Homo sapiens: one gene and its partners. The protein of the gene in region 6 purifies or fractionates together with the protein of the main gene of each other region. This does not show direct contact. Each region holds a gene or a part of one and is shown on either strand. Other genes may lie near its edges.

Evidence for each region.
Region 1: the proteins of ABCC1 (region 6) and CCR9 purify together in Homo sapiens (co-immunoprecipitation; one large-scale study listed by IntAct). This does not show direct contact.
Region 2: the proteins of ABCC1 (region 6) and PIGH purify together in Homo sapiens (co-immunoprecipitation; one large-scale study listed by IntAct). This does not show direct contact.
Region 3: the proteins of ABCC1 (region 6) and CLN6 purify together in Homo sapiens (co-immunoprecipitation; one large-scale study listed by IntAct). This does not show direct contact.
Region 4: the proteins of ABCC1 (region 6) and VDAC3 fractionate together in Homo sapiens (co-fractionation; 3 studies listed by BioGRID). This does not show direct contact.
Region 5: the proteins of ABCC1 (region 6) and PDHX fractionate together in Homo sapiens (co-fractionation; one large-scale study listed by BioGRID). This does not show direct contact.
Region 7: the proteins of ABCC1 (region 6) and VSIG4 purify together in Homo sapiens (co-immunoprecipitation; one large-scale study listed by IntAct). This does not show direct contact.

What each region holds. Positions count from the first base shown.
Region 1 is NC_000003.12:45,892,592-45,896,825, forward strand, and holds part of CCR9 (C-C chemokine receptor type 9), read left to right. Parts: intron 1-1,625; exon of another isoform or gene 1,626-1,710; intron 1,711-2,314; 5' UTR 2,315-2,342; coding exon 2,343-2,363; intron 2,364-4,234.
Region 2 is NC_000014.9:67,593,227-67,597,460, forward strand, and holds part of PIGH (phosphatidylinositol N-acetylglucosaminyltransferase subunit H), read right to left. Parts: intron 727-4,234; coding exon 517-726; intron 1-516. UniProt on the Homo sapiens protein: Part of the glycosylphosphatidylinositol-N-acetylglucosaminyltransferase (GPI-GnT) complex that catalyzes the transfer of N-acetylglucosamine from UDP-N-acetylglucosamine to phosphatidylinositol and participates in the first step of GPI biosynthesis.
Region 3 is NC_000015.10:68,212,729-68,216,962, forward strand, and holds part of CLN6 (ceroid-lipofuscinosis neuronal protein 6), read right to left. Parts: intron 1,661-4,234; coding exon 1,562-1,660; intron 1-1,561.
Region 4 is NC_000008.11:42,398,129-42,402,362, reverse strand, and holds part of VDAC3 (non-selective voltage-gated ion channel VDAC3), read right to left. Parts: intron 3,652-4,234; coding exon 3,499-3,651; intron 2,713-3,498; coding exon 2,660-2,712; intron 576-2,659; coding exon 348-575; intron 1-347. UniProt on the Homo sapiens protein: Non-selective voltage-gated ion channel that mediates the transport of anions and cations through the mitochondrion outer membrane and plasma membrane.
Region 5 is NC_000011.10:34,919,129-34,923,362, reverse strand, and holds part of PDHX (pyruvate dehydrogenase protein X component, mitochondrial isoform 1 precursor), read right to left. Parts: intron 1-4,234.
Region 6 is NC_000016.10:16,046,894-16,051,127, reverse strand, and holds part of ABCC1 (multidrug resistance-associated protein 1), read right to left. Parts: intron 2,987-4,234; coding exon 2,825-2,986; intron 1-2,824.
Region 7 is NC_000023.11:66,037,039-66,041,969, forward strand, and holds the start of VSIG4 (V-set and immunoglobulin domain-containing protein 4 isoform 1 precursor), read right to left. Parts: upstream 3,043-4,931; 5' UTR 2,961-3,042; coding exon 2,906-2,960; intron 1-2,905. UniProt on the Homo sapiens protein: Phagocytic receptor, strong negative regulator of T-cell proliferation and IL2 production. Potent inhibitor of the alternative complement pathway convertases.

The DNA of each region.
Region 1 (4,234 bases), on a different chromosome or scaffold from region 6:
AAAACTATCTACCAGTCAGGTACTATGCTTATTAACCTGGGTGGCGAAATAATCTATACACCAAGCCCCCATGACGCGCAATTTACCTATATGACAAACCTGCACATATACCCCTGAAGCTAAAATAAAAGGAAAAAACCCACAAAAACAAACCAAAACAAAAAAAACCCACGTGGGTCCGTAGTGATCTCTCAAGTTGGCTACAACAGCACAAGGCACTCCAGTGCACTTTTGAAAAGCTACCAGCAGAGAGGTTACCAGGAGGAAGTTCTGGTTGCTTTCCTCCTCAGGGCCTGCTGACAGCCGGAGATGACACTGAGAAGTGAAGTGCCAGAAGGTTTTCATCGTACTTTGCTTTTTCCTGCCTTACTTGAACAGCTTTATTGAGGTCCAATTATAATAAACTGCAAATATTAAAATGCAGAATGTAAGTTCTGACGTACATACACCCTTGCGAAGCTCTCACACAACCCAGACAGTGAACATATTTATCCCCCACTGAGGTTTCCTTTGTACCCACCTGCCCTCCTGCCCTCCCACACTCCCCTTCCCTCTCTCTCTCTCTCTTTTTTTTTTTGTTTGAGATGGAGTCTTGCTCTGTCACCCAGGCTGGAGTGCAGTGGTGCAATCTTGGCTCACTGCAACCTCTGCCTCCCAGGTTCAAGTGATCCTCCTGCCTCAGCCTCCTGAGTAGCTGAGACTACAGGCGCACACCACCACACCTGGCTAATTTTTTGTATTTTTATAGAAATGGGGTTTCACCATGTTGGCCAGACTGGTCTCGAACTCCCAACCTCAGGTGATCTACCCACCTTGGCCTCCCAAAGTGCTGGGATTATAGGCGTAAGCCACCATGCCCAGCCACCTCCCCTTCTCTCTCTCTCTATTGCCAGGACATCAGTGATTCTGCTTTCCGTCAGTATAGATTAGTTTGCATTATTTAGAGTTTTATACAAGTGAAATCATACAGTATGAACTCCCTTTGGTCTGGCTACTTGGCATAATTGTTTGGAGACTTGTCCATGTTGCTGTGTGAATCGGTCATTCATTCCCTATTCCATTGGACGGATATTTCACAGTTAACTTATCCATTTACTACTTGATGGACATTTAGGCTGTTAGCAGTTTTTGCCTACCACAGAGTAAAGCTGTAATAAACACTCACATACTAGTCTTTATGGGGACATATACTTACAATTTTCTTGGGTGAATACTTAGGAGTGGGATGACTGGATCACATGGTGAGTGCATGTATAACGTCTTAAGAAACTGCCAGTTTTCCAAAGTGGTTTTACCACACATTATGCATTGGAAACCACTGTACTTTCAGAAAAGCAGGGTGGGGTCATGATGTTGTTATGGAAAGGAAGCCAACAGGTTGGCTTTATAGGATTTATGAAAGAGGCTATTTTTTTCGAGAACCTTGGGGTGTGATGCTGGACAGGTTTCCTTGAAATGTACTCGCTAAGGGTATAAAAGGAAATGCCCCAGCTCAGGCACAGACTTCGTCCTCGAAGGCAGTCAAGCTGTTGTTTCTTTGGTTATGTAGGGGTGGGCTTTAAAGAAATTCAAAACACATGAAAATGACAACTCGAGATTTATTTCAGTCAGTTCCGAGGCCCTGTGCATTAGGGAACTAGAACTCATTTTCTTCAGTACACAAACCTAGGACTTCCTTTTCCTGCTGAAGTCAGGGTAAAGAGGAGAAAGGTGGGTTCTGGGGGCACCGGGTCTTTTAGGGAGGGGCCCCAACCCCAGTGGGCACCACCCAGCCCTCATGTTCTTCTTGCCACCTGGTTACTCAAAGGCCCTTTTCCTGGGGAGTCCAGAGCCCAGGGCATTCTCAAAGCGACCACTGTCCTGTTAGCTTCGGTGAGTCCCTTAGCTGATAGAGCAGGGGGAAGGGGAACCAGTCAGCAAAACAGGACTTGACAGACAAGCTGAATCAAGGGAAAGGGAGCTAATGTAGAAAGGATGAGCTGGGAAAAATGTAACAGCCCACCTGCCATTCCTCATTTGTGGATGGGAGATGTACTAATTATTGTCTAAGTAGAAAGAAAACAAATGCTAGAATCAGGTGACCCTCAGAGTCAAAGAAGTGAATGATAACTTCAAAGGAGAGGTTCATTCATTTCTGTGTGGACTACTCAGATGATTCTGAAATCTAGAATACTATATAGACTCTAACTCCTGCTTGGAATATTTTTTTCAGAAGAATAAGCAGATTTAAAATTTAATCTCCATCTTTTTGGCATTTGGTTGTTACTATTCGTTTACAAGCCAGTCCACTTTTTGATTTTTGTCCCTTTTCCAGGAGCAGGCTTGCATCTGACTGACCCACCATGACACCCACAGACTTCACAGTGAGTACAGCCGTGCTCCTCTGGCTCCTCAAAACACACACTCATCTTCCCTTTTTAGGGGGTGTGGGAAGGATCCACTGTGGGGGAAGGATTTATCTGTGTGGTTTCCCAGGGTAAGATCTCTGCCTGGCAATGCGCATTGCTGGGTAGGTTGTTGTCCAGCACAGAGGGTTTTGCAAATGCAAAGAGGCAGCTATGCTTTGGGGTATGTTGTGGAGACAGAGGAAAATGTGGTGTTATAAACAGCTAAGGATTTTTAACCATCTTTAACTAGGGTGTGCTTAGTTCCATATGCCTGTTCTAAAACTCAGACAAATGAGGCAAAGGGAGAATTCATGTAATTTGCTTTTAAAAAACCCATGGTGGGCACATTAGTTGTATTTCTTGCATAACATTATGTAGACCTTATGAAAACACGTAACAGTATACATTCCCCTGAAAGAGACCAAGAGCTGAGCAAAAATTAGTGAGTCAGTCTGGGCGTGGTAGCTCACGCCTGTAATCCCAGCACTTTGGGAGGCAGAGGCGGGCGGATCACCTGGCCAAGGCCAGGATTTCAAGACCAGCCTGCCCAACATGGCAAAACCCCATCTCTACTAAAAATACAAAAATAGCTAGGTGTGGTGGCATGCGCATGTAATCCCAGCTACGTGGGAGGCTGAGGCACGAGAGTCGCTTGAGCCTGGGAGGTGGAGGTTGCAGTGAGCCAAGATCACGCCATTGCACTCCAGCCTGGGCAACAGAGCGAGACTCTGTCTTAAAAAAAAAAAAAAAAATCAGTGAGTCAAATCATAATCCAGAGAATCTTTTTTTCTTTTACAGCCGAATGTAATTAAGTGTAGAATCAAATTAATTTCCCATGCTTTTGTAACATTCATAAATGCCTTATAAAATTACCTAAGGGCTTTGATTTTGCTCTTCTCCAAGGGAAAGCCTGGGTTTTACATGTAGATAATTGAAATCCAGACTTCCTAGCAGGCGGGCTAACAAACTGCCTCACAGTACATTGTGGGTTTCCATGATCTATGGAGAGTGGTGGTTGAAACAGTTTATCAACTAAATTATTTATGATATGCTAATGATTCATTAGTATTACATATGTATAGTTACCTAATTGCACCTATATCCATAACAACAAAAAAGTAATTAATTTGGTCCTGGTGAAGTAACTATTATTCTGACAAAAAGTAGACTCTTCAGTTTCTCCTGCATTAAATTCACCTTTCAATCCCTGAGGCTGTGGAAACAGAAGTAGATGAAGGCAGCAGAGCCAGGGCTGCTTCTGAGCTTGCCAGTCATTTGCTTTTATCATTTGGGATCTTGGATAATAGCCAACTCTGCAAAGCAGCCCCAGATAAGAAGGAAACTGCACCTCAGTAATGACCTGCTCTTGTCAGAGGAGTCTGGCGCCATCTAAATGGGAAGAAGATGGGACCCCTGTGGCCCTGACTCCCATATTCCATGGAAAGTAGCCGTGGCACCCTGTGGCCACCTTTCTGAGGATGTGCTGGGCCAGTCACCCATGCAGGTGCCCCACATTCCCTCAGCGTCACAGTAAAGGCAGAGTCCTTTTTACAGATGAGGAGACCGAGACTGGGGAAGGTGGTTTGAGGGTTCAAGGTCTCATAGAAATTTGGAGGAATAGCCCTTGAGGGGTGCTGTTGGCAATCATAGCTTTGCTGGGTTCCTCCCTCAGGGTGAATGTCAAAGCACTGAAATCCAGGTCTCAATGTTGGGATTTAATACTTTCTCAAGTGTGGGGCCAAGGTGTCTGCCAGAGTCCCTGCTGATAACAAATTCATTTTTTCCCCACCTCCCTCCTTCTTGTGCCCTCTCTTATTCCATCTCCCCCATTGCCTTGTGCCCATTCT
Region 2 (4,234 bases), on a different chromosome or scaffold from region 6:
AACCTGTAAACTGAACACTTGGGGAGGCCACAGCAGGAGGATGGCTTGAGCCCAGGAATTCAAGACCAGCCTAGGCAACATAGTGAGACTGCATCTCTGCAAAACATAGAAAAAACGAGCCAAGCATGGTGGTGCATGCCTGTAGTCCCAGCTACTCAGGAGGCTGAGGTGGGAGAATGGCTTGAGCCTGGGAAGTTGAGGCTGCAGTGAGCTGTGATCGAGCCACTGCACTCCAGCCTGGGCAACAGAGTGAGACCCTGTCTCAAAAAAAAAAAAAGAAAAAAGATAGAAAGAGAAGGAAAAAATGCCAGTGATAATTTTGAAGTTGGTCTTGAAGATAAAGTTGAAATGCTAATTCCCTATCCATGAAAACCTGCTGCATCTCTTTAAAAATAAAGAGATTTACCTTTTAAATATAAGTCTCACTTTTACGGTTTTAGTTTAAATCTGGGAACATCCCATGGGCTGGCTACCTCCTCCAGAGAGGCCTGTAATACTTACCTTTTAAATACTTACCATGTAAATGGCCTCATTGATGACAATATCCTTGACCTTGCCCATTTCTATGAAGGTAGTGCTTTCTTTGCCTGAAGCATAAGATGAAGTCATCTGAATGCCAAGGGAATCAATGATTAACAGAGTCTCCTGATCAATCTTCACAAAATGGAGATAACCAAGCAGACCTAAGAGGGTGATGAAGATGGCAGCAGAGAGGATCATGCTGTTCTGAAGAGAGAGCCAGACACAGACAGTAAGATTACCAAGTGGTACCAGTCAACTCCAGGCAATGAGGGGAACATGCATGGAGGAAAAGGAAATTGCTTTTATTTGGGTTCTAAGGTGCTATGAAAGTATACAGTGAAACAGATCCAGACAACAAATGGATAGGTCTAGGGGAAACCTCCATCAGCAAAATGTCCATCACAGCAATCTCAGAAATTTTTCTTCCAAAATTCCAACTTTAGGGCCTAAATCAGCTGAACGCAGTAGCTTGCACCTGTAATTCCAGCTACTAGGGAGGCTGAGGCAGGAGGATCGTTTGAGCCCAGGAGTTCGAGGCTGCAGTGAGCTATGATCATAGAACTGCACTCTAGCTTGGGTACCAGCATAAGACACTGTCTCTAAAAATCGAAAGGACCCAGCCGAGTGAGGTGGCTCACGCCTGTACTCCTAGCACTTTGGGAGGCCAAGGCAGGTGGATCACAAGGTCAAGAGATCGAGACCATCCTGGCCAACATGGTGAAACCCCATCACTACTAAAAATACAAAAAGTAGCTGGGCGTGTTGGCACGTGCCTCTAGTCCCAGCTACTCTGGAGGCTGAGGCAGGAGAATCGCTTGAACCTGGGAGGCGGAGGCGGAGGTTGCAGTGAGCCGAGATCGCACCACTGCACTCCAGCCTGATGACAGAGTGAGACATCTCAAAAAAAAAAAGGACCCCAAATCTTTTCCTTTCACACTCCCTCAGCAGAATACAGGAGGGAGTTATGTCCTGATAAACCCATTATAAGATGAAAATGCATTTAATATTTAGTTCTAGCACTCAAATAAAAAATTAAAATTAAAAAATGCATTTAATATACCTATCAAGCATCAGAGCTTAGCCTAGCCTACCTTAAACGTGCTCAGAACACTTACATTAGGCCGGGCGCGGTGGCTCACGCCTGTAATCCCAGCACTTTGGGAGGCCGAGGCGGGCGGATCACGAGGTCAGGAGATCGAGACCACGGTGAAACCCCGTCTCTACTAAAAATACTAAAAGTTAGCCGGGCGTAGTGGCAGGCACCTGTAGTCCCAGCTACTCGGGAGGCTGAGGCAGGAGAATGGCGTGAACCCAGGAGGTGGAGCTTGCAGTGAGCCGAGATCGCGCCACTGCACTCCAGCCTGGGTGACAGAGCGAGACTCCGTCTAAAAAAAATAAAAATAAAAAAAATAAAAAAGAACACTTACATTAGCCTACAGTTGGGCAAATCATGTAACATAAAATCTGATTTTACAGTAACGTGTGGTAAATCTCATATAATTTATTCAATGCTATACTTAAAGTGAAAAACAATGTTTGTATGGGTACTTGAAGTACCGTTCCTACTTGAAGTACCGTTCCTACTGACTTTGTATTGTTTCCGCATCATCCTAAAGTCAAAAAAATCCTAAGTCAAACCATCGTAAGTTGGGAACCATCTGTATATAGTGCAAAATCATAGACTGAACAATTATAAAGTGCTTAGCACAGTGTAGCAGATACTATGGCTTGCCTAATAAACAGCCACCCACCAGCCCCAATTGAACAGTGAGTGAACCATGATTGGTTCCCACTCCTTCTGCCAATGACTGCTTTAAAAATTGGCATGTGACACAACTCTGGCCAATGAAATGTGAGGGGAGATCTGCTGGAGGGGCTTCTGGAAAACTTGAGTTTATCTTTAAAAATCTGCAGAAGAGACGTTCCCTTCATCATGAGGTTTAGATACCTGGAACTACTATGGCCTCTGCCAGACCCAGTGGAGAGCTAGTAGAGGACAACTAGAGGACGCTAAGGGTGGAAGTGCAGTTTCTGCACTTGGAGGACCAGGTGGAGGACAAGTAGGGCACACTAAGGGTGTCAGCAGTAAGATGACAAGAGCCGGAATCAAATGAGTCTCCACGTGAACTCTGGAGCCCTCCTACCTTATGACTTCTTGTTAATATAAAAGGTCCTTATCTCTTAAGGCTATTTTAGTTGTTCTGTGTTACTTACAGTTGACTAAGTGATGTGTTAAGGGCTCAAAAAATGGTGTCTATTATTTATTCCCTTGATTCTAAGACCAATGTATAATCTTTAACATTTCTGAAGTTAAAATGTGTTTTCCTATTGGTGTGTGTTTCTTTCATGTGGCATTGTTTTATCTTTTTTCCCAGAAGCTTGCATTCATTCATTGATTCGAGACAGAATTTCACTCGTTTCCCTGGCTGGAGTGCAATGGTGTGATCTCGGTTCACTGCAACCTCCACCTCCCGGGTTCAAGTGATTCTCCTGCCTCAGCCTCCCTAGTAGCTGGGATTACAGGCACCCGCCACCACGCCCAGCTAATTTTTTTTTTTTTTTTTTTTTTTTTAGTAGAGATGGGGTTTCACTATGTTGGCCTGGCTGGTCTCGAACTCCTGACCTCAGGCAATCCACCCGCCTCAGCCTCCCAAAGTGCTGGGATTCCAGGTGTGAGCCACCGCACCCGGCAAAGCTATGATTTAGAAGACTGGCACAGGAAAAAAATTATTGATGACCTAGAATCAAAGAAATTTTGTAATTTTGGACTGCATTCCTTGAGGGCAGGAAGTGTCTTATTATTCTTTGCACTGACAAGATGCCCTCCTTTATCTACTTCTAGTCAGGTTCCTCTAAGCTGTCTAGGCCCTGACCTTGACATCTTTGTTGGGCCTGCACTACCCACCCAATTGTAGCAAGAATCTTGCTGAATCAGTTTAGAAAGAACTCCCACCCTTGGTATTTGATCAGCCTGGCATGCCTTCAGCAAGAATCCTGTCAAGTCAATTTAGCCAGAATCCCACCTTGCCCCTGATGTTTCCTTTGGGTAATTTTCCATCCACTGACTCCCACCTTGCTCCTTGGCTATAAATCTCCACTTGTCCATGCTATATTCGGAACTGAGGAAATTTGGAAGTCTATACTGAAGTCTCTTTTCCCCTACTGTAATAGTTCCTGAATAACATCTGGTTTTTGTACCACTTCAACTACTCACTAGCTCTGGTTTTCTTTGATGGTCTCTTTCTACTTTTTCATAGTTAACCCATAGTGTTAGATCAGGGATCTGTAAACTATTTGGGCCTGTGGTCTGGTTTTGTCTGGCCCATCTCAAGCAAAGAATGATTTTTAAGTTTTTACAGGGTTGTAGAAAGAAAGAAAAGAATATTATGAGACAGACCCCACAGAACCTGCTATATTTACTATCTAGTCTTTTAATGAAAATGTTTGGGCCAGGCATGGTGGCTCATGCCTATAATCCCAACACTTTGGGAGGCCAACATGGGGGGATCGCTTGAGGCCAGGAGTTCAAGACCAGCCTGGGCAACCTAGTGAGACCCTGTCTCTACAAAAAATACAAAAATTAGCCAGGTGTGGTGGCACATGCCTGTAGTCCCAGCTACTCAGGTGGCTGAGATAAGAGGATCGCTTGAGTCCAGGAGACTGAGGCTGTAGTGAGGGGTATTCACACCACTACACTCCAGCCTGGGCAACA
Region 3 (4,234 bases), on a different chromosome or scaffold from region 6:
TCAAACTACTGGCCTCAAGTGATCCTCCTGTATCAGCCTCCCAAAGTATTGAGATTACAGGTGTGAGCCACCATGCCTGGAAAAATTCATTTATATTTCCTATATACTTTACATACACAGCCTGAAGTTAATTTTATATAACATTTTAAATAATTTTGTACATGAAACAAAGTTTGTGTTAAGTACATATGTGTAGAATTTTCTTTTTTGAGACAGAGTGTTGCTCCATCGCCCAGGCTGGAGTGCGGTGGTGGAATCTCGGCTCACTGCAACCTCTACCTCCTGGATTCAAGTGATTCTCCTGCCTCAGCCTCCCAAGTAGCTGGGACTGCAGGCGCACACCACCGCACCTGGCTAACTTTTTTGTATTTTTAATGGAGATGAGGTTTTGCCATGTTGGCCAGGCTGGTCTCGAACTCCTGACCTCAAGTGATCTGCCTGCCTTGGGCTCCCAGAGTGCTGGGCTTACAGGCGTAAGCCACCATGCCGGCCCTAAGTTTTTTGTATTTTTTTCTTTTTCTTTTTTTTGAGATGAAGTCTCACTGTCTTGCCCGGGCCGGAGTGCAATGGCGTGATCTTGGCTCACTGCAACCTCTACCTCCCGGGTTCAAGTGATTCTCTGGCCTCAGCCTCCCGAGTAGCTGGGACTACAGGTGCCTGCCAGCATGCCCGGCTACTTTTTTTTGTATTTTTAGTAGAGATGGAGTTTCACCATGTTGGCCAGGCTGGTCTCGAACTCCTGACATCAGGTGATCCGCCCGCCTCAGCCTCCCAAAGTGCTGGGATTACACGCATGAGCCACTGCGCCTGGCCAATTTTTTCTATTTTTAATGGAGACGGGGGTTTCACCATGTTGGCCAGGCTCCTGACCTCAAGTGATCCACCCACCTCAGCCTCCCAAAGTGCTGGGATTACAGGCTCCAGCCACCGCGCCTGGCCGAGTTTTCTACTTATAGTATCATGCCAGTGCTTAAAAAATTTCAGACTCCTTTGGAGCATTTCAGATTTCAGATTTTTGGATTAGGGATGCTCAACCTATAGTAGTTTTAAAGGCCTTACTTGGCAAAGTGCAAAGCCAGCAGTTCCTGCTAGTGCTCCCAGTGACATCTCAGGGCTCTCCAGGGCAGAGGATGGAGTTCAGCTGCTGCTGCTGCCTCTCCTGCCACCTGGCTTCTTCCTCTCTTCCCAGTGGGTCCTTGACCTCTCCCTGGACCTCCAGTCACTTCTGCCTCAGCCTCCCCAAATGTTTTACGGTTTCCCAAGCACAGCCTTGTCTTTAGGTCCTTCTACCTGAACACCTCTCTGCTTCCCCCACTGGCACGCCAGGCTGAGGCTCAAATCAAAAGCCCTTTCTTGGGGCATATTTTCCATCCCTCCAGGCCACCGGCAGCTCCGCCTTCCCCGGGCCCCAGGCCCTGGACATGCTGCTCTGTCACAGCCTTCACCCCCCAGCAGCAGGCAGGAGCGTGCTTGAGTCAGGACACAGGGCTTAGCATCACCTTCCTGCCAGGTGTGCAAAGAATGGGGATGACAGGAGAGAGTGGGGGCCCTGGGACAGTACCTTGAGCAAGAGAAAGGGCGTGATGACGTTGTAGGCCATGTGGAAGTAGTCCCCAACACTGGGCTTGTTGAGTGGAAACCACTCGAGAGGGAATACCAGCTGCGGAGCAAATGGAAGAATGGGCTCACCTGGGCACAGCCCCACGCGGCCCTCGGGCCTCAAGGGAGTCTGCCCCTAATGCCGCCCACCCCAACTCCTTTCACCCCCCACCCCATCATGTACACTTAATTCTTCCTGTGATCGCTGGACCTTCTCGGCAGCCTTGGGACAAAGGTTTATCCAGACAGGAAAGCTGAGTCCCAGAGGAGGTAACGGACTTGTCCCCAGACACAGAGCAGATGCAATTCCAGTCAAGGCCTGACCCTGTGCCCCTCACCCAGCAGATACCAAATAAATGACCCTGATGCCAGCTTGGGAGTTGGTAGGCTTCTCAGGGACTCCGTTGTGGCACCAACTTGCTGGGTGACCCTGGGCTAATACTTCCCTTCTCTGGGCCTTGGTTTCCCCATCTATAACACAAGAGAGGTGGCCCAGAGGGCCTACTTGGACCGTTCGGGTTCTGGCGCTCCTGAGTGCCAGATCAGTCTCCTGAGTGCTAGGCCCTGATGTGGAGGGACTGCTTCCAAACCAGGTTCAAAGTACACGTTAGGAGACAAAGGAGAAAACAAGAATGCTCTACAAAGTAGCTGCAACTCTTCCTTCCCAGAGAGAGGAAGGCAGGCCAGGGGCAGTTCCTCCTTCTGCAATGCTCTCTCTTCTGAGCCCTGGCCTTGTCCAGGCCAGTGTGAAAACCCCTATGCGGGGTTAAAGCATTTCACAACCCCCAAACTGTACTTCTAGTATCTGTTGATTGAAAACACACATAAGGCCCACAAGTTTCAAGGAAGGATTTAGATGGTTCTCTCTTTTAACACAGAAATGCCATATTGGATAAACTAAACCCGCAGAAATAAAACTCACAGAATGCAGCAATCTCAGTCTCTCTCTCTCTCTCTTACTCAGTGTGCATGTGTTTATCTGCCTCTTTACCTACATCATATATATACTTGCTAAAATACTCTGTGATAGCAAAACATCAGAAATAGGCTGACTCTTCAATCAAACAGGACCAGTTGAATCCCTGATAGTACTTCTTACCATGGAAGGTTAAGTAGCCATTAACAGAAATGACACCTTATATGTACTGACATGGAGAGAGAGCTATATTTTTTTTTCTTTTTTCTTTTTTATTGAGATGAGGTCTCCTTATGTTGACCAGGCTGGTCACAAACTCCTGGGCTCAAGCGATCCTCCCACCTTGACCTCCCAAAGTGCTGGCATTACAGGTGCCAGGCACCAAGCACCATTAATTTTTAAATTATTTGTAAAAACAGGGTCTTGCTATGTTGCCAGGACTGGCCTCAGGCAATCCTCCTGCCTTGGCCTCCCAAAGTGCTGGAATTACATGCCACCATGCCCACCATATGATATATTCTAAAGGAAAACAAGCAGGTTGCAAAATAAAGTATAAAGCAAAATCCCATTATGGTTAGAAGGGAAAAGGATGTATATATGTGTTTGTACAAGCAGAGAAGAGTGAAAGGGGTGTTCCCGAAACTGTCAGCAGTGGGACAGGAAAGGGGTAGGGAGAGTCTAACACTTCTTTATGTTACAACTATGTTACATCTATGACATGTTACTTTTATAACTTGTAAATGTTTTTGTTTTTAACAAATTTGCAACTATTATGCATACATTTGAAAATCTCTAGCGTATACAAGAGCTTTTCAAATGTCTACGTTCCACCAAGTCCTACTTAGGGTTACAGTGGTCACAGCAGCTCTAAGCAGGATGGGGGAAGTGATTTGCCCAATAGGAGACCCTGTTATGCCAGTAGAAGCTGGGTCCTAGTGAGTGAAGGGAGCCACGAGCCCACTCCTGGCCTCATCTCTCTCTCTAGCACCAGTTTGATGGGCAGCTTCTTTGGCCCCCAGTATGTGGTTCCTTCATGCTAGAAGAAGGTTCAGAGCAGCCAGTCCAGCCAGTCTTCTTGGAGAGAGAAATGAAGCCCAGGACAGTGACTTGCCCTAGGTCACCCACAAACCCAACCAGATGCCCCAACTCTTGGCTCAATTCCTCTTATTTTTCCACATTTAAAAGGCAACCTTCAAAAAGACTGCAGGAAGGAGAACCAGCACCCACCATCACTCCCTGACAGCATTGCCAGGACAGCTTTTCTTTACACCTATCAAGTCTTTGATCCCAGGTAGACAAGCTCGTTATTGACTTGCAATTAGTCAGTCTGCATGTCATTTAGGAACCTTTTTTCTCCTTAAATATTCCAGGTTGCTCTATAGTATCCATAATTTCTGCTTAATTGCCAGGAAACATTCTCTATAATGGACATAGCAAAACTGATTTACCCAGTCCCTAATGCTGGACACGCAAGTCACTTCTAAGGTTTGGCTATCATAAACACCACTGCAATGAACATCTTTGAGTTAGAGGAAACTGCTGTCTTCTTGCTGATTATATCCCTACGGGCAGATTCTCGGAAGGGTATTACTGGGTCAGAGGGATGAATATATTAGGATTCTGGATATTTATGTGACAGAGAATTCAACCTTGTCAGAAAGGGGCTCCAGGGCCAGAATGCCTGGGCAGATGCTGGCCTCTATGCTTGACCTCGAGCCA
Region 4 (4,234 bases), on a different chromosome or scaffold from region 6:
ACTGTCAAGATGAGAGGGCAGCAGAGGAAGCAGTAACATCTCCAAAGGGTCATCTTACCATGAGGTAAGCCATGCTCTGGGCTCCCTCTATCCCAGTGGTTCTTCTACAGAGGCTGGAGCTTCCTCAAGTTTGGGGTGCAGGCTGAGGGGCCAGTGACCACCAGCAGCACAGCCTGCACACCACGTGCACCAGCCTCCTGGCAAGGTTTTGCTATGAGGATAGCACCGCAAGGATGGATATTCACCAAGGCATGCTAAATCTGAGTACCATCACTTCTCAGCATGCTAATGGCTACAATATTTTGGGCAACTGCACTGATACTAAGGAATAAATTATAAACACTCACACATGTGTGTGCAGCTGGAAGTCCGCAGCCTTGTAACCCAGGGCGAAATTATTCTGTGACAGTTTGGATTTGGCTGTGTCAAAACTCATCTGATAGCCAGCAAGCCACCCTTCGAAGGCCAACACAGCCCAGCCATAGATGGTTGGTCCAGAAAAATCTATATCAACATTACTGCCAACACTAAAACAATCCCGTTTATAGGAGGCCTTCAATTTCCCACTCTTCTTTCTGCAATAAACAAACAAACAAAAGCAAATGATGAAAACAACATGAGTTCTTACTACTGTCTAGGAATTTTTAGAGTAAGATCCTCTCTCTCATCTCCCAATGTAAATATTATTTTGGTACATGCCACATATATAGTAAAAACATTTCAAATGACCTAGTTCTACAAATATAATTTTGTTAGGATTAGACATGTATAGACTACTATCATCTATTACTCATTATAAGTTCAAATGATAGGATACTTCATGATTTATTTCATAAAAGCATGAACAAAAGTATAAGAATGAATAAGAGGCTGGGTGTGGTGGCTCACACCTGTAATCCCAGCACTTTGGGAGGCCAAGGTGGGCGGATGACGAGGCCAGGAGATTGAGACCATCCTGGCCAACATGGTGAAACCCCGTTTCTACTAAAAATACAAAAATTAGCTGGGCGTGGTGGCACACGCCTGTAGTCCCAGCTACTTGGGAGGCTGAGGCAGGAGAATCACTTGAACCTGGGAGGCAGAGGTTGCAGTGAGCCAAGATCATGCCACTGTACTCCAGCCTGGCGACAGAGCGAGACTCGTCTCAAAAGAAAAAAAAAGAATGAATAAGATATTTCAGTGCCAAATTAATAATCTGAAGGTGTATGTATACAGACGTACAAGAAGCCAAATCTCTTTAAATGTTTCCAAATGCCAAATGCCACAAAGAATTAATCCCCAATATACATTATTAACCTATCATGGAGAGAAGCATGCTTTTTTGAAGGACAATACTGAAAAAATGAAATTAGTTCTTAATAACCCTATTCCAATCAAGCCTCTTGTAGGAATATTTGTCCTGGCCGGGCACAGTGGCTCATGCCTGTAAGCCCAGCATTTTGGGAGGCCGAGCCAGGCGGAACACGAGGTCAAGACAGAGACCATCCTGCCCAACGTGGTAAAACTCCGTCTCTACTAAAAATACAAAAATTAGCTGGGCGTGGTGGTGCATGCCTGTAGTCCCAGCTATTTGGGAGGCTGAGGCAGGAGAATTGCTTGAACCCAGGAGGCAGAGTTTGCAGTGAGCTGAGATAGTGCCACTATACTCCAGCAAGACTCCATCTCAAAAAAAAAAAAAAAAAAAAAAAAGAAAAGAATATTTGTCCTAAAGATAACTGAAGTGTGTGGCAAAAAGAACACACCTGTTGTTACGGCTGAGACAAATGTCACTTTGCATTCATCTAGCAACCTCCGTCCTTCAGATAGCATGGACCCACATTAGGCAGATAGGAAATGACACAATCCCCCTTTTTTTCACGAGGAAATTGAGGTCAAGAAGTTGGGGGATTTACAGAGGCTAAGAAATCAAGTAGGCAGCAGAACTAATCATTATAGCATCTGAGAGCCAGATCACCTTCTTAAGAAATTAACTTTTCAGCACCATAAGAGAGGGTGAGGGGGAAAAAAAAGGAATTAACTTTTTTTTTTTTTTTTGAGACAGAGTCTCGCTCTGTTGCCCAGGCTGGAGTGCATCTCGGCTCACTGCAAGCTCCGCCTCCTGGGTTCATGCCATTCTCCTGCCTCAGCCTCCTGAGTAGCTGGGACTACAGGCGCCCACCACCATGCCTGGCTAATTTTTTGTATTTTTTAGTAGAGATGGGGTTTCACCGTGTTAGCCAGGATGGTTTCCATCTCCGGACCTCATGATCCGCCCATCTCGGCCTCCCAAAGTGCTAGGATTACAGGCGTGAGCCACCACGCCCAGCCAAAAGGAATTAACTTTCTCAGCAGAATACCATGTCCATCAATCTTCAGAATTGCTTAAGATTCATCTATGGTCTCAAGACTCTTCTAGCTCCTAAATTTTTTCTACCATGTGTCTCTCTCAAATACATTTATACATTTTTGCTCATCTATTCAGTTTTCAAATTGTTCATCCTGCCTTGGTGGGGAGGGATCTTCCTTTATCTGTATTACCTATACAAGGTCTCCAATATTCCTTATAGCAACCTTCTGAGTTCTTCCTGCCTCTGAACTTTGCACTATATCTCCTTATTCTAAAGCTCTCTACCCTTTCAGGCTCCAAAAACGTTTCAGGAAATGGGATTTGAATAATTACCCTGTGTTCGGTACAAATATGGTATCAAGAGTCAGTTTCAACCCTTCAGCCAACTGAAAAACAAAGATTTAAAATAAATAATTAGTAATTTTCAATCATTTATCCAACTCAAGAAACCAATTCTAAAGTTTCCTGAGTTCTTTAACAAAAAAAAGGAGTCATTCAAGAAAGCAAAATATTAAATTATGTAATAAGTAAGCTCTCCATCCTCCTGTCCCCTCACCCCAGCCTTCATCATGGTTCTCCCACTAAAAAATGGGGCAAATCCTATTTTAGCAAGTTACATAAAATACAGTTCAAAACCAAACAGAATTCCCATACAACAAAATCATCTTGATACTCTCTTGAAAGAGCAGTAATGAGATAACCTGACATTTAACAAGCAGGCTAAGTCATTTTACTCAGTTTTGCATGTACATTATCTATACATGGTATCTCTATCAAAAACAGTGCCCTGTACATAGTGGGCACTTGACTATATCTAATAGATTTTCTCCTTGAAAACATGAGAACATTTTAGAAAAATTTTTCTGTCAAGCCAATTTTTCAACAATTACAAAACTAAACCAAATTTCCGCAAATAGTTTGTTCTACCCAGGAGAAGCTTAGCTGTGTAACAGAGAACCAGTCAGAACAAAGATGTAATATAGTAATTAGAGTACTCACAAACAAAGCCTTATTTTCTAGAAACATAAGACATCAAAAAAGGCCACATGCAGAGAAAAAATATGGCTACTAGATAGGTTGTAAGATCTCTTTTGATTATATTTGGGGTATGTTCATCATTCAATCTACAAGATAAATTGAACCTATGAATAACTTCTAATGCGTTCTCTTACCTTATTCTCCCAAGAGATTTCTGTCCCTAGAGTATTGTCTGTGTTCCATTTCTGGGTGAAGGTAAGTCCATAGTTACAGACCTTATATTTGGTTTCTAGGTTGCCTGATGCTTTCCCTGTATCAGTGTAAGCATGACCAGAAGTAGAAAATTCCTGGTAAGCAAGAAAAAATAATTACTTTAAAATTAGCTCATCAAATAGAAAATATTCACTTTGGAAAGCAGTGTTCAATGTATCAAAAACAATACCATTTACTGCTTGCCACAGCCCTACTCTAGAGCAACTTCTTTCCTCCTTTCCCCTTGCTTTTCCAGTCCCTAAATATTTTAACCAGTTCTGCCAGGCGCAGTGGCTCATGCCTGTAATCCCAGCATGTTACGAGGCCAAGGCGGGTGGATCCCTTGAGTCCAGGAGCTCAAGACCAGCCTGCGCAACATGGCAAAACCCCATCTCTACAAAAAATACAAAAAATTAGCCAGGCATGATGGCACGTGACTGTAGTCCCAGCCTGAGCCCAGGAGGCAGAGGTTGCAGTGAGCCGAGATCATGCCACTTCACCCTAGCCTGGGCAACGGAGTGAGACAGCTCAATACCAGTTTCAGATCTTTCCATTACTCTACTTCTCTTATTAATATCTCTTGTTCCATATACTCTCTTACCAAATGGTAATCCTAAATTCTCTCCTTTAAAAAAGAAGTATCTTTACTGAAAACAAATGCCTTTACTAAAAAGACCA
Region 5 (4,234 bases), on a different chromosome or scaffold from region 6:
TATATTCCCAAGAAATCTCTCCTGAATTATACATTTGCTGATCCTAATTTTTCCCTAGGAATGTTTCATATAATAAAGTCCTTGATTTATACAGTAACAGAAAGATATCAAGCAGATCACTAGCTATAGTAAATGTACTGCCTACCAAAAAAATGAATCACCCATATACCCCATCTTGTTCATAGAATCTGCTGATTCTATATTATTATACTTCTACTTAGTATCCAATGGCACATTAGAAAAGAGGTTAGCCAGAATTTTTAGATAGCATATGGTGTAGAATGCATTTCCTTTGAATGAAATAAACCAAACATTTTAGAAGAGATTTCAGCTTGGAATACTGTCCTTCTTGGTATTAAACTATAAAATTAAAATTCTACATGAAGTTCACTTTACTTTGCCATCTTGGGAGAAGAGCCAAAAGAAATTACCATTCCATTTACAGCCTAGCAAAAGAATACATACACACACACACACACACACACACACACACACACAACGATACTTTGGGAATTTACACATTTTGTCGTAAAAGGCAAATTAAGCTCAAGACAACAACAAGAAGGTATATTTAAGAGTACATCACCTTAGAAATTTACAGATAGGAGAAGTCAATATATACTCTAACTCTCTTAAATAGTCCTGCCACCCTTACACGTAGTCAAGAATTTTGGTGTCCTTAATTGTTCTAAAATGATAGGCTGTCACAGAAATGCTAGTCTACAATGCGGTTATTACTATGTCTGATTTCATTTTTTTAAAAAAAGCAAAAATGTTCATTTAGGATGTACACACGGTGAACTTTAAAACGTCAGCATGCTGACACTGTTCTGCTGAAATCTATAATCAAGCTATCACTTGATACTGAGGTAGACTATGGTTAAGGAAACAGGCATTGGTGTCAGATCTGGGTTGAAACCTGAACTATCTACCAGAGTATAGTATTAGTTGTGAGTATTAAATGAGCTGATTCATGTAAAGTGCTTACAAGGGTGCATAGTATATAGTAAGCTCTCAACAAATGCTACTTATTATTCCCAAACCTATCCCCAAATTTCTTTCTTGCTGGTAGCTCAACTTTGTTCAGCAATATACTTTTCTTGTGCATATGTACTCAGAGTTAGTGATTCCACACCCATCCCCTTGATTAGCCAAAGTCTATACATTTTTCACACAGTGAAGTCAAGCCAGTGCCTAACTTAAGAAAGGGCATACGACCCAATTCTGGTCAATACAATATAAGAAAATTCTGCTGTGGTAACAGAAGATGTTTCTTGTTCTGCAAAAAAGACATCCAAGAAGAAAGGTCCTCTCTTCTTCCTCTGGATGTCATCACGTGCACAGTTCCAAAGTGGTCATCCACTTATCCACTAACCTTGGGTAAAATGCTAAAACCTCTCTGAGTCTATTTCTTCTCCCGTGAAACCTGGCAAACCTTTGCAGGGTTTTTATGATGGTTAGAAGTAATGCAAATATAGTGAGAGCTCAGTATGTGATGGCTACTTCTAATACCCTGCTTTCATAGACAGAATAAAATCCTTTAAAACAAGGTAAACATATACAAAGTATTTCCTGATCATCTAAATCTTCTTAGTCCCTCCTGTTGCTGCCTGTAGTAAGATCTCATTTACCCCTGTCCTATTTTCTTTGGATGGGCAAACATCTCAGCTGAGTAGCCTACAAGTGCTTTGCTTAGATGATACACTTTGCTTGGTCATTACTTAGCGCAGAAACAATTAAAATAAATAAAATAAAATAAAATACTGCATTACTGGCCTATTTTAGTCAGATGGTCATAGCAACAGAAATGTCAATCATTGATTCTCAACTACTTTCTTAAAGAAAATGTCCAAATCGTAGCCTTCGAAAGAATCAGCCTTGCATGCCCTGTAGCACAACTGGTCTACTTTGGGTCAGTTTCTCTATTCAAGGAATTTGAAAGGAGATTACAGAAATGATGGTGAGCACTTAAACAAAACTGACAGCGCATCGTGCATAAAGGCCTGAATCACCACTGAGGCAAGGCAAGCTGACACTGAGAAAGAAAAGCCAGGAGTAAACAGATTGATAATTGCAAGTCTGTACAGGAAAACAAAGTAAATAAGAGAAAGAAGACAAATAATATGAGCCCTAGAAGAAATAGATGGAATAATTATGGTTTCCCCATGGCCCTGCAGCATTTTATAAGTGATGTTCTATCCTTTTAATAAATCCTACTTTTACTAGAGCTATTCTACATGTTTCTGTTTCCACAGTTAAATGAGAATTCAAAGGAGAATATCAATCTTATCAGTGTATAAGCACTTAATAAGAACCAGGCCTAAAAGAGTATCCGTGTTTTGGCAGAAATACCATACCATTAACTCTATCAAAGAAGTTCCCTCTCTCCTGGTTATAGCACTGCTGTCAAAAACTCAGATGCCTACAAAAAACAGGCAGGTGAGAGAAGAGGACTAGCATCTTCAGGTTTTTTCTTTAGATTCTGACATCCTTTATTTTCATATTAAATGGATAAGCATTTTCCTCCTTTACACATATACACAATATCTGCTTTCTCCCATTTTTCTTGGTCTTTTGTCTTCTGCCTTCCGTAGAGATAAGAGTACAAGAAAAAAAAATGACAACTAGAGGTGATGCAAATACCAAGGGACATTCAGCCTTGCTAAGATGTAATACAGAGTAGGCGGCATAGTGACAAAGTAGGAAGCAATTTCCTACCTAAAAAGAACAATCATTACTCAGTGTTAGATAATTGTCACCACATAGGATTTAACTATCAATTTTAAAGAGAGAACAAAAATCTAGATTTCTCTGTAAAGTCTCCTGATTTTAAAATTTTGCCATAAGTTTTTCTGCTAAAACAATGTGGGTCAGTTCCCTGGCTGCCAACTTGGAATCCTACTGTAGGCTCTAGTGTTCTTTTATAACTTCCTAGATTACTAGCTTCCTTAGATATGTTTATTGAACATCTATAATATGTATTGCCTATAATTATATACTAGGCAAATCGCCACCAAGATTGAACCTCAGTTACTTTTCTATTCACAGGTTATTTTAAATTCAACATGTTATTCTTCAGAGACAACTTAAAACCAATACTATTAATTAACATCTTACCAATTATATTCCAAATCATGCTACCTACTCTGAAAGGACCACAATTTAAACTCTCTGAAGTTAACTGTCTAGAGTAGGTTGAAAAACTGTTTACAGATGCTGTGTCAATTATATAATGATCACTCTGGTCTCTGGGTCTTTGTTTCTGCTGTTCCTTCAGCCTGTAAGGGCTGTCACCTCTTCCTCTAAGAAGCTGCCTTATATATTATTTCCTGATCATTTCAAACTTACCCCCTCTGAGCTTACTGTATACACTATTGAAATCATACCTTTATTGTTTATGTCCCCAAAGAGACTACAAATACCTTAAGGATCAGCCCTATATAGAATTTTGGATTGCATGTCCAGGAGCTAAGTATGATTAAATGTGCCATGTGGCAAATACTGAGAATCTGTTTGATTCAGCTGGCCACTACTTCCCAAGCAGGGTACCATGTGCCTGGCACCTAATAGATGCTAATTTCTTCACTCATTCTTCAATAATGTAAGTGGTAAAAAAGATAGTCTCTGCATTCTCAATAAATCTGTTGAGAGAATGATACAAATTAAAGATTTGTTAAACAAATTAATATATGTATATAAATATATACATGCACTTCAGTTCATCAACACAGTTACATGTCTTTAGGAGACTCAATTTCTCTAAGCCTTGGTGTTTTTGTCCAACTAAATGCAGATGATGCCAACTTTACTAGGTTATGTGAGAAGTGAATGAGAAATTCTAGAAAGTGCTAAGAAAATGGCATATGTCATAGCTCATAAAAATGCTGCCAGCACCTCTTAAGGAAATTAAAACTCCAAAGGTAGTTCCGACTGACAAATTTTTAAAGATATTTGTGTGAAAGACGAAACAGTTCAATAAATGTACTTAATTTATATAGTTTACAGTAATCCAAATAGTTGTTTAGTTTTATAAAACTACAGTTTCTACCAAGCTCAGAGAAAAAACACCACCGTAAATTCACAGTTTGTAAAACAAATAGTTCAAGGATTGCCACGTGTTTTCGGCATGGCAAAACAAAAATCTGTATGTAGGTGAAAGTCAGAAGCGGATATATTTTGGCTCGGTATTAGGAAAAAAGTCCAACACTTCCAAATACTTAGTATTTCCAAATAC
Region 6 (4,234 bases):
AACTGTCTGGCCCCAAGTGTCAACAGTGCTGAGCTCAAGCAACTACCATCTAAAACAAAACGTGATGTTAGACAATTTTCTTAACGGTTCATAAACCAATCCTGAAGGCAGTTCTAGAACAAATGTTCCAAAAATATTTTTCCCATAGTAGCACTTTTACAAAAGTGGACTCCCCAAGACACCTGCTTGAAAAGACACTTTATTTAGATTTTTTTTTTCTTCTAGAGACAGGGTCTTGCCTTGTCACCCAGGTAGGAGTGCAGTGGTGTGATCCTAGCTTACTGCAGCCTCTGCACTCCTAGGCTCAAGCAATCCTCCTGCCTCAGCCTCCACGGTAGCTGGGACCACAGGTAGGCACCACCATGCCCAGCTAATTTTTTTTTTTTTTTTTTTTTTTTGTAGAGACAGGGTCTCACTATGTTGCCCAGGCTGGTCTCAAACTCCTGGCTTCAAGCAATCCTTCCACCTCAGCCTCCCAAAGTGCAGGGATTACAGGCGCATGCCACCTATATCTGTACCCAGCCTATTAGACAATTAAATTCTGGTGTTTTTTCTGAGTTTTATTATTAGAAACACTTTACTCACCTTCTGCTCTACAAATGTACAAAAAAAAACCAAACTACAGCCAAATAAACCAGTAATTTTTTCTTCTTCCTTTTTCTTTTTTTTGAGACAGAGTCTCGCTCTGTTGCCCAAGCTGGTATGCAGTGGTACAAACTCAGCTCAATACAACCTCCGCCTCCCGGATTCAGGCCATTCTCCTGCCTCAGCCACCCAAGTAGTTGAGATTATAGGCATACACCACCATGCCTGACTAATGTTTATATTTTTAGTAGAGACGGGGTTTTGCCATGTTGGCCAGGCTGCTCTCCTGGCCTCAGATGATCCACCCGCCTTGGCCTCCCAAAGTGTTCAGATCACAAGCATGAGCCATTTCGTCCAGCCCTTCTCTTTCAATAACAGATAATAATTTGAGCTGTGCCCATTATGCATCAGGCCCTGCTGGGGTTGTACCCACAGAAGACACAAAAGTCAGCTGCTATATGTCTGCAAGTAGCTAACATGTTACCCTTCAAAGAGGAGGCAGTACACTGAGCATGCAAAAAAAACAAAACAAAACTATTTCAGGGAGTGGGCTGGGCACGGTGGCTCACGCCTGTAATTCCAACACTTTGGGAGACCACAGAGGGTAGATCACCTGAGGCCAGGAGTTCAAGATCAGCCTAGCCAACATGATCAAACACTGTCTCTACTAAAAATACAAAAAAAAAAGAAAATTTAATGGGCGTGGTGGTGTAAGCCTGTAGTCCCAGCTACTCGGGAGACTGAGGTAGGAGAATTGCTTGAAGCTGGGAGGCAGAGGTTGCAGCGAGCCAAGATGGCACACCACACTCCAGCCTGGGCAACAGAGCGCGACTCCATGTCAAAACAAAAACAAAACAAAAAAAACTATTTCAGAAAGTATTATTAGATGAGTTCCTATACTAAAGTTATTGGGACTCAAAATTCAAAAGAAGAAGTCCATCTAATTGAGAAGGGAGGGTAAATCAATGGAAGTAGTGTTTGTTACAGCCTTGGGGGATGAGCAGGCTTTCATCAATTAGGAAGAAGGAAGGAAAGGTACGTGGCAAAGATCCAGAGGTAGCAAAGCACAAGGCATGTGTTGTGCTATGAGCCTCTTTGCTTATCATTTTATTTTGGGAACTCTCCCTCTCCACATGGAAGGGCTGTCAATCACATCTCTTCTGCCATGGGAGAGGACATGTGACCCAGGCTGGCCAATGAGAGAACTCTGCCTCCTGGGCCACAGTGATTGGTTCACGGGTGTGAATAGGACCAAGCCAGGCTAATCAGAGTGCTCTCTGAGACTGACTCTGGCTGTGCAGAGAAATGCTGCCTTGTCTTTTCTCTGGCACCTTTATCTATCAGGATGTTATCAGCCCAAAGCTACGGAGCCATGTAGGGAAGTACCACTGAGAATGATGTTAACTCAGAGGACAACAGGGCAGTGGGTGAAACTGAGTACTGACAACATTGCTTGATCTCCTGGATCAATCCACACCTGAAGCTAGTCCCCAGATTTCTGAGATACATGCAGCCCCAAAGTTCCCTCTATTTACTTAGGCTACTTTTTTTTTTTTTTGGAATTGGAGTTTCACTCTTGTTGCCCAGGCTGGAGTGCAATGGCCCAATCTCGGCTCACCGCAACCTCCGCCTTCCAGGTTCAAGCAATTCTCCTGTCTCAGCCTCCCAGGTAGCTGGCATTACAGGCATACACCACCACGCCCAGCTCATTTTGTATTTTTAGTAGAGACGGGGTTTCTCCACGTTGAGGCTGGTCTCGAACTCCTGATCTCAGGTGATCTGCCCGCCTCGGCCTCCCAAAGTGCTGGGATTACAGGCGTGAGCCTCTGCAACCGGCCACTTAGGCTACTTTAAGACAGATTTATATCCCTTGCAATTGAGAGAATTTTGACCACCATAATTAGGGACTAATGAATAAGTGAGTCTGGTTAGCGTTTGGGAGGATTCAAGGGGAGAAATATGATGTGTCGTCCATTGTAGGGTAGTTAATTACTGACACTGTCAAGGAAAAGAGAAAATGAAAACGCCATGCCACCAAGGAGAACATCAACCTGACAATTCAGGAAAGGAACAAAATACTGAGGAATTGGTTAACAGGCTGGAAAATAAAATATGAACCACAGCCGGAACTGCCAGGGAGCTCTACATGCCATTACCATCAACACCCACTCCCTCGGCCCACTGCCCACACGTAGAAGTCCCTCCCTGCATGCAAAGGGAAACGGCGTTAAACACACACCAGCCACAGGAGGTAGAGAGCAAGGATGACTTGCAGGGGGGCTGACCAGATCATGTTAATGTACGTGGCCAAGTCCATGAACCTCTGAGCGTCCACAGACATGAGGTTGACAATCTCCCCGACCGTGGAGGATTTTCTGGCTGAATTGGTGATCACCAGGGCCTGTGGGACAAAGGAGAGGGAAGGTGGGTGAGTGTGGCAGCTGAAGAGGCCTGACTCTCCCTCCAGACCCACGGAGAGGAAGGAGACTCTCAGGGGCAGAAATGCCGCAGATCTCTCCTCCTCCCCTCCCGACCTATCTGTCTGCCCAGGACGCCTGTGTCATCTCAAAGCCCACATTCTTATCCGCGGTGCTCAGTGCCTCCCAACCTTGAACTCATCAGTTGGCAAGGGACCCTAGGTGTCCTCGAAACCAGGGCTTCGCATGCTTTAATGTGCACACATGCGGCCGGGTTTTTCTGGGGGGAGTGGTGGGGGGTGGGGGGAGTTGTTTTGGATTCTGCAAGTCTGGGGTGTGGCCTGGGATTCTGCATTTCTACGCTTCCAGGCTGTGTCAGTGCTACTGGTCCCAGATCCCACTGAAGGACTGAGGGTGTGGGCCAGGGTCTCTAATCCTTGGCATTCTTGACATCTGGAGCCAGATAATTCTTTGGGGGGCTGTCCTGCGCACTGTAGGAGTTTTAGCAGCAATACCTGGCCTCGACCCACTACATGCCCTCGCCCCCAGTTGGGACAACCGAAAATGCCCCCAGATATTGCCAAACGTGCCCTGGTGGGGGAAAATGTCCCTAGCCCTCAAACATGATTGCACACTATCACCTCGTGAGTTTTAAAAACACTAAGACATTAGCAGGCGTGGTGATGCATGCCTCTGGGCCCAGCTACGTGGTGGGCTGAGGTGGCAGGATCGTTTGAGCCCAGGAGGTGGAGGCTGCAGTGAGCCAAGATCATGCCACTGCACTCTAGCCTGGGTGACAGAGCGAGACCCTGTCTCAAAACATAAAAATAAATAAAAAACAAAAACAATGACACCTGGGTGCCACCACAGCAATCGCAATTTCACTGGTCTGGTGCAACCTAGGTGTCAGGAAGTTTTTTTGTTTTTTCAGACAGGGTCTCATTCTGTCACACAGGCCGGAATGCAGGGATGCTATCAGGACTCACTGCAGCCTCCAACTCCGGGGCTGAAGTGATTCTTTTAACTCAATCTCCTGAGTAGACGGGACTACAGGTACGCACCACCATACCTGGCTAATTTTTTTAAATTTTCTGCAGAGCCAGGGTCTTGCTATATTGACCAGGCTGGTATTGAACTTCCAAGCCTCCAGTGATTCCCCCACCTTGGTCTCCCAAGCTGCTGGGATTACAGGCATGAGCTACAGTGCCTGGCCTGCATCAGTTTAAGCTCCC
Region 7 (4,931 bases), on a different chromosome or scaffold from region 6:
ATAATATATCATATAATATATATTATATAATAATATAATATATCATATAATATATATTATATAATAATATAATATAATATAAAATATTATATAATAATATAATATAATATATAATATATATTATATAATAATATAATATAATATATAATATATAATATATAATAATATAATATAATATATAATATATATTATATAATAATATAATATAATATATAATATATATTATATAATAATATAATATAATATATAATATATATTATATAATAATATAATATATAATATATATTATATAATAATATAATATAATATATAATATATATTATATAATAATATAATATAATATATAATATATATTATGTAATAATATTAATATATAATATATATCATATAATAATATAATATATAATATAATTATATAATAATATAATATATATAATAATTATATAATACAATATATAATATATATTATATAATAATAATATAATATAATATATTCATAATATATTATATTATATTATATATTTATATACTTATTATATTATATTACTTCCTTTATTATTACTTCCACTTTACTGATAATTACTTATATATAATATATAATAATTATATAATTATTACTGATAATTACTTATATATAATATATAACATTATATTATATTATACTTATTACTGATAAGTATATATACTTATTACTAAGTATATAAACTTATTACTGATACGTATATATACTTATTGCTGATAAGTATATATACTTATTGCTGATAAGTATATATACAGTATTGAGCTTAATGTGGTCCTGAGACCCAGCCTTATAAAAGCAAATGTCTGATGCCTGTGTAATGGCACTGAAGAAAAGAAAGGTTGAATTTACTAGGTGTGTGCTCCTTTATAAGACCCATTCTAGGTCTCTTTCTGAATCCCCTTCCTCCCATCATCACAAAGAGGTTGACATTTTCCATATCTCTATCCCATTCCCCCACATGACTGGCTTCTCTCCCTTTCCTGGAATGCCTCCTGGATGGAGGATTAACTTATATAATAGATGTTTATAAAATGTTTCTGAAATGTTTAAAATGTATATAAAATGTGAATATTAGAAATTTTTTAAATTTTGATTATCTTGACATATCTCTTAGCCCCACAGGAAGAGGCTAGCAGCTTACTCTGGCCGCTACAGGGTTTTTAGCAGTGAAGCTGCAGTCCCACAGAGTTGTCCAGCTGAGAAACCCCTTTAAGACCAGTCAAGTCAACCTCCTCACTGTACAGATGGGCTAGGAACAATGAGGTCCAGGGAGAGGGAAGGTATTATTTGCAGCTCAGCATAACCTGAGCCTGAGGTCTATAGTATAAGATCCTGTGTACAAATGGAAGGCCTGCTTCCAGGTCTGGAAAAGCTCATAGGCTGGGGAAGGAACAAGACACATGAGTGCTCTCTCTCTCTCTCACACACACACACACACACACACACATGAATGCACACACACATACACACACACAAACAAAGGATTTAAATTTAACATTTCTAAAATGCTCCCTCAAGCCCCAGGCTTAAGCCCTAGCTCAAACCAACAGACTTGGAGAAGGTAGAGAGATACATTATAAAACCTGCTAGAGAATGGAAATGTGGTAGTTATAGAAAGAAAAATGTTTTTTCAGGAGCATTAACTCTGCCACTAATGCTCTTTGGCTTGGGGGCAAATTATTTTTTCTCTTGGTTGACTTAATTCAGAGTCTTTTCTAACTCTGAGGTTCCAGAGTGTGATGGGTCACAGAGCCCCAGGATAGGGTAACCTAATCAGAGTCAGCTACGGAAAGCTGGATTCTTTCTGACCTAACAAGTGACACCAAGCTAACACCTATCCAGCCTTTTTCTCTAGGGATGATAGGGAAGCAGCAAAATCCCCCTTTACCCTATATTGGATCTCACTTAGCTGTTACCCAGGTTGAGTTTCCTGAAAATCCATCTCACTTCTCAGGAGTGTAGATGAGGATAGAGCTTCCCAAGCTCCAAGGAAATAATGCCACTATGGAATAGTCCATCCTCCTTTGGGATTTGTATCCAGCCCATAAATAGCCCAGACAAATTGAGCCATGTCTATAGGGAAGTGAGTTATCCCAGGAATGGGTAAGAAACCAAGTCCTATGAAGACCAGTTGAAAAAGCTGGGGCTGTTCAGCTTGGAGGAGAGAAGAGTCAAGGAGACATAGTACTTGTCCTCAGGGCTTTGAAGGGCTATCACAGGGCAAGGAAGCATCTATGTTCTGTGTAGCCCCAAGAAGCAAAGCTGGGGTTTTTGGATGGAAGTCAGAGGGAACTGGATTTAGTTCAACACAAATAAGAACTTTCTAACAGTTGGAGCTGCTCCTGGATGGACTAGATGGTCTGGGGAGGTAGTGAACAGTGAAATCTCAATCACTACTGGATGTTTCTGAGCACTTATTCATGACAATGAAGGGTGGTATAGGTTACTTCTATAGTCCTATCCAACTCTTAGAAAACACTCCTTCTTCGGGGGCTGTATATTTTAACAGAGACCAAAGCTTGGAAGCAGAGTGGTTAAGTCCAATTGTAGAATTTTAGATGAGAGACAGCAGATGGAGGAAAGATTCGGATGTCATTGGGAACCTTCTTGATGCCCCTGAGATACAAGCCCTAGAAAATAATGCAGATGTTTTCCAAGAGAAAAATCCTTTTTCAATTTCTGCCCAAACTTGCCTTCTGGCTTCTTCAGCAGCCTTCAACTACATCCATCCGTTTTGCTCAAGGCTGAGAGAGCCTGCAGAGTTTGGCTGAGAAGACTCACCTGCCCAGTAGGAATAGGCTTTCCATAGTAGACATTAAACACCAACCCTCTAGCCTTTTGCCTAAGCCAGCAATGGCAGCCAGGCCCCCCTTTCTGCCTTACCATAAGTGTCCACTGTTAGGTGCCCCAGGAGTAGCAGGCCCAGTAAGATCCCCATCACAGCCAGAGCTACTTCTGTCCTTTCTTCCAGCCTCCTGCTACCAAAGAGGCTCAAACTTCTGGTGGCCGCCAGCGTCTGTGACTGCTTACTTCCCTTCCTTCCCTATATCTCTCACTCAAACTCCTAGTCCCATCACACATTCCCCTTCCTTCCCTATTTCAGTACAGGTCATGTGGGGTGCCCCCCTTCCCCCACCTCCTTGGGGTTGGAGGTTCCAGGATGAGTGAAGCAATTCTTCCCCCTGCTAGGGTATTGACTTGACTTTCCTTGGAGCCAATGGGGCTTTCTGGTCTTTGATCTCCTAGGCTGTATTTATTTTGAGTCTCCTCCACAAGATTCAGAGGTTGTGGGGGCGACCTTTGGGATGAGTCTTCCCACTCCAGTATGGCGGTGTTTTCCTTTGTGGTGAGCCCAGGGAGAAGAGATCAACTTTGCTGACCTACCCAATTTTCATTAGTTGTACTGTTAACCCTTGCCTGTGCAGCCTATGCAACTGGACAGGGTGTTGGGCCCGGGGTGCTTTTGGGCTTAAGAGTACAAGAGTTTAGTGTATTAAAGGGCTTTCTACACATCAAAGCTTGAATAATTGACAAGCCAATGGATAAGGCTGTTATGGGTGAATATGCCTCATATCTCATATTGGGGAAGCTCTTTGAATCACTTTCTACAATGGCTCCACCTCTCTGATGGTAAGGGAGAATTCATTTTCATTAATGTTCTCCATGCTTTTTCATAAGGAATTTATTTTTTACTTCTTTTAAGGGAAATTTAAGCCTAGCCTCCAGTGCAGCAGCCCATTAGTGGTATGCTGTATTAGGTTGAATTTTTCATTGACTTCCAATTGGTACAGGCCCTTGACCTACAAGAGAGTAATATTATGCCTCCTAGCAAAGCTCAACTGCTCCAGAAATTGCTCCTCTTCACAGGCCCCAGAGTGACTGTAATTTCATCAGCAGTCTAACTAGGTTTGGCACTGCGCTTTGTCTACTAAGCTTTGAAACAATAAGCACTTTCAAAAGCACAAATACATCCCAAAAATTCATACTGCACTGTAAGTAACAGCTAAGCTTAGTTTACTCTTTGATTGGAGGGATAGGAAAGGACTTGGTCAGGGGAGGGAGGAGTTTGTGCAGAGATGGGGAGTGGGAATATAAAGAAACATACTTGCCAAGGGGTGGCTGCATGCAGATGATTTGGAGCTGTGCACGGGCTAAGGAGACATTCCAGCATTTCAGGACACATTATTACATGGAATTCTATCAATCACCTCTGCCTCTAGGGCCCAATCCCCCTTGGCTGGTTGTTCCTTGTTTTTTGAGTACTGCACTCATTCCATCTCACTGGAAATTTCAGCCATTTTTTCCCACCGGGTCCTCACTCAGGAAACCCTGAACTTCACAGAACCCTCCTTTGATATTTTTCAACCAACACCCTATCACCACTACACCACCACCACCGCACAGACACACACACACACACACACACACACACGCACACACATACACACACACACACCCCTCCCCTTCCCCGCTAAAAAGCCCACTGGACAGATGTAAATTTCTGCCTGGCCAGGTGATTGTGTGTTTTGTGCTACCTCTTGCATTTTATTAGGACCTCCTGGATCTGAAGATAAATAAATGTCCTGGGGAGTATGCACAACATTACTTCAAGGCTGGGAAAGACTTCCAGTCTTGCAGTAGGCTCAGTAGCCCTCTTGATTAGTAAAAGAATTGGATGAGAAGTCAGAAACCTGGAGATAAGCCTGGCTCTGTGTCTACTTCATTCTGAGATCTTGAACAAGTCAAATCTCTCTGAACCTCAGCTTCCCTAATTGTAACATGAACATAATTATACTTGATGCTTGTATCTTTTCAGATTTATAAAAATCAAACTATACTATACATACAATAACAACTATATAATGATAGTTGCTATTTAAAATCTTTTACTCTTCCAGTCACTGAATTA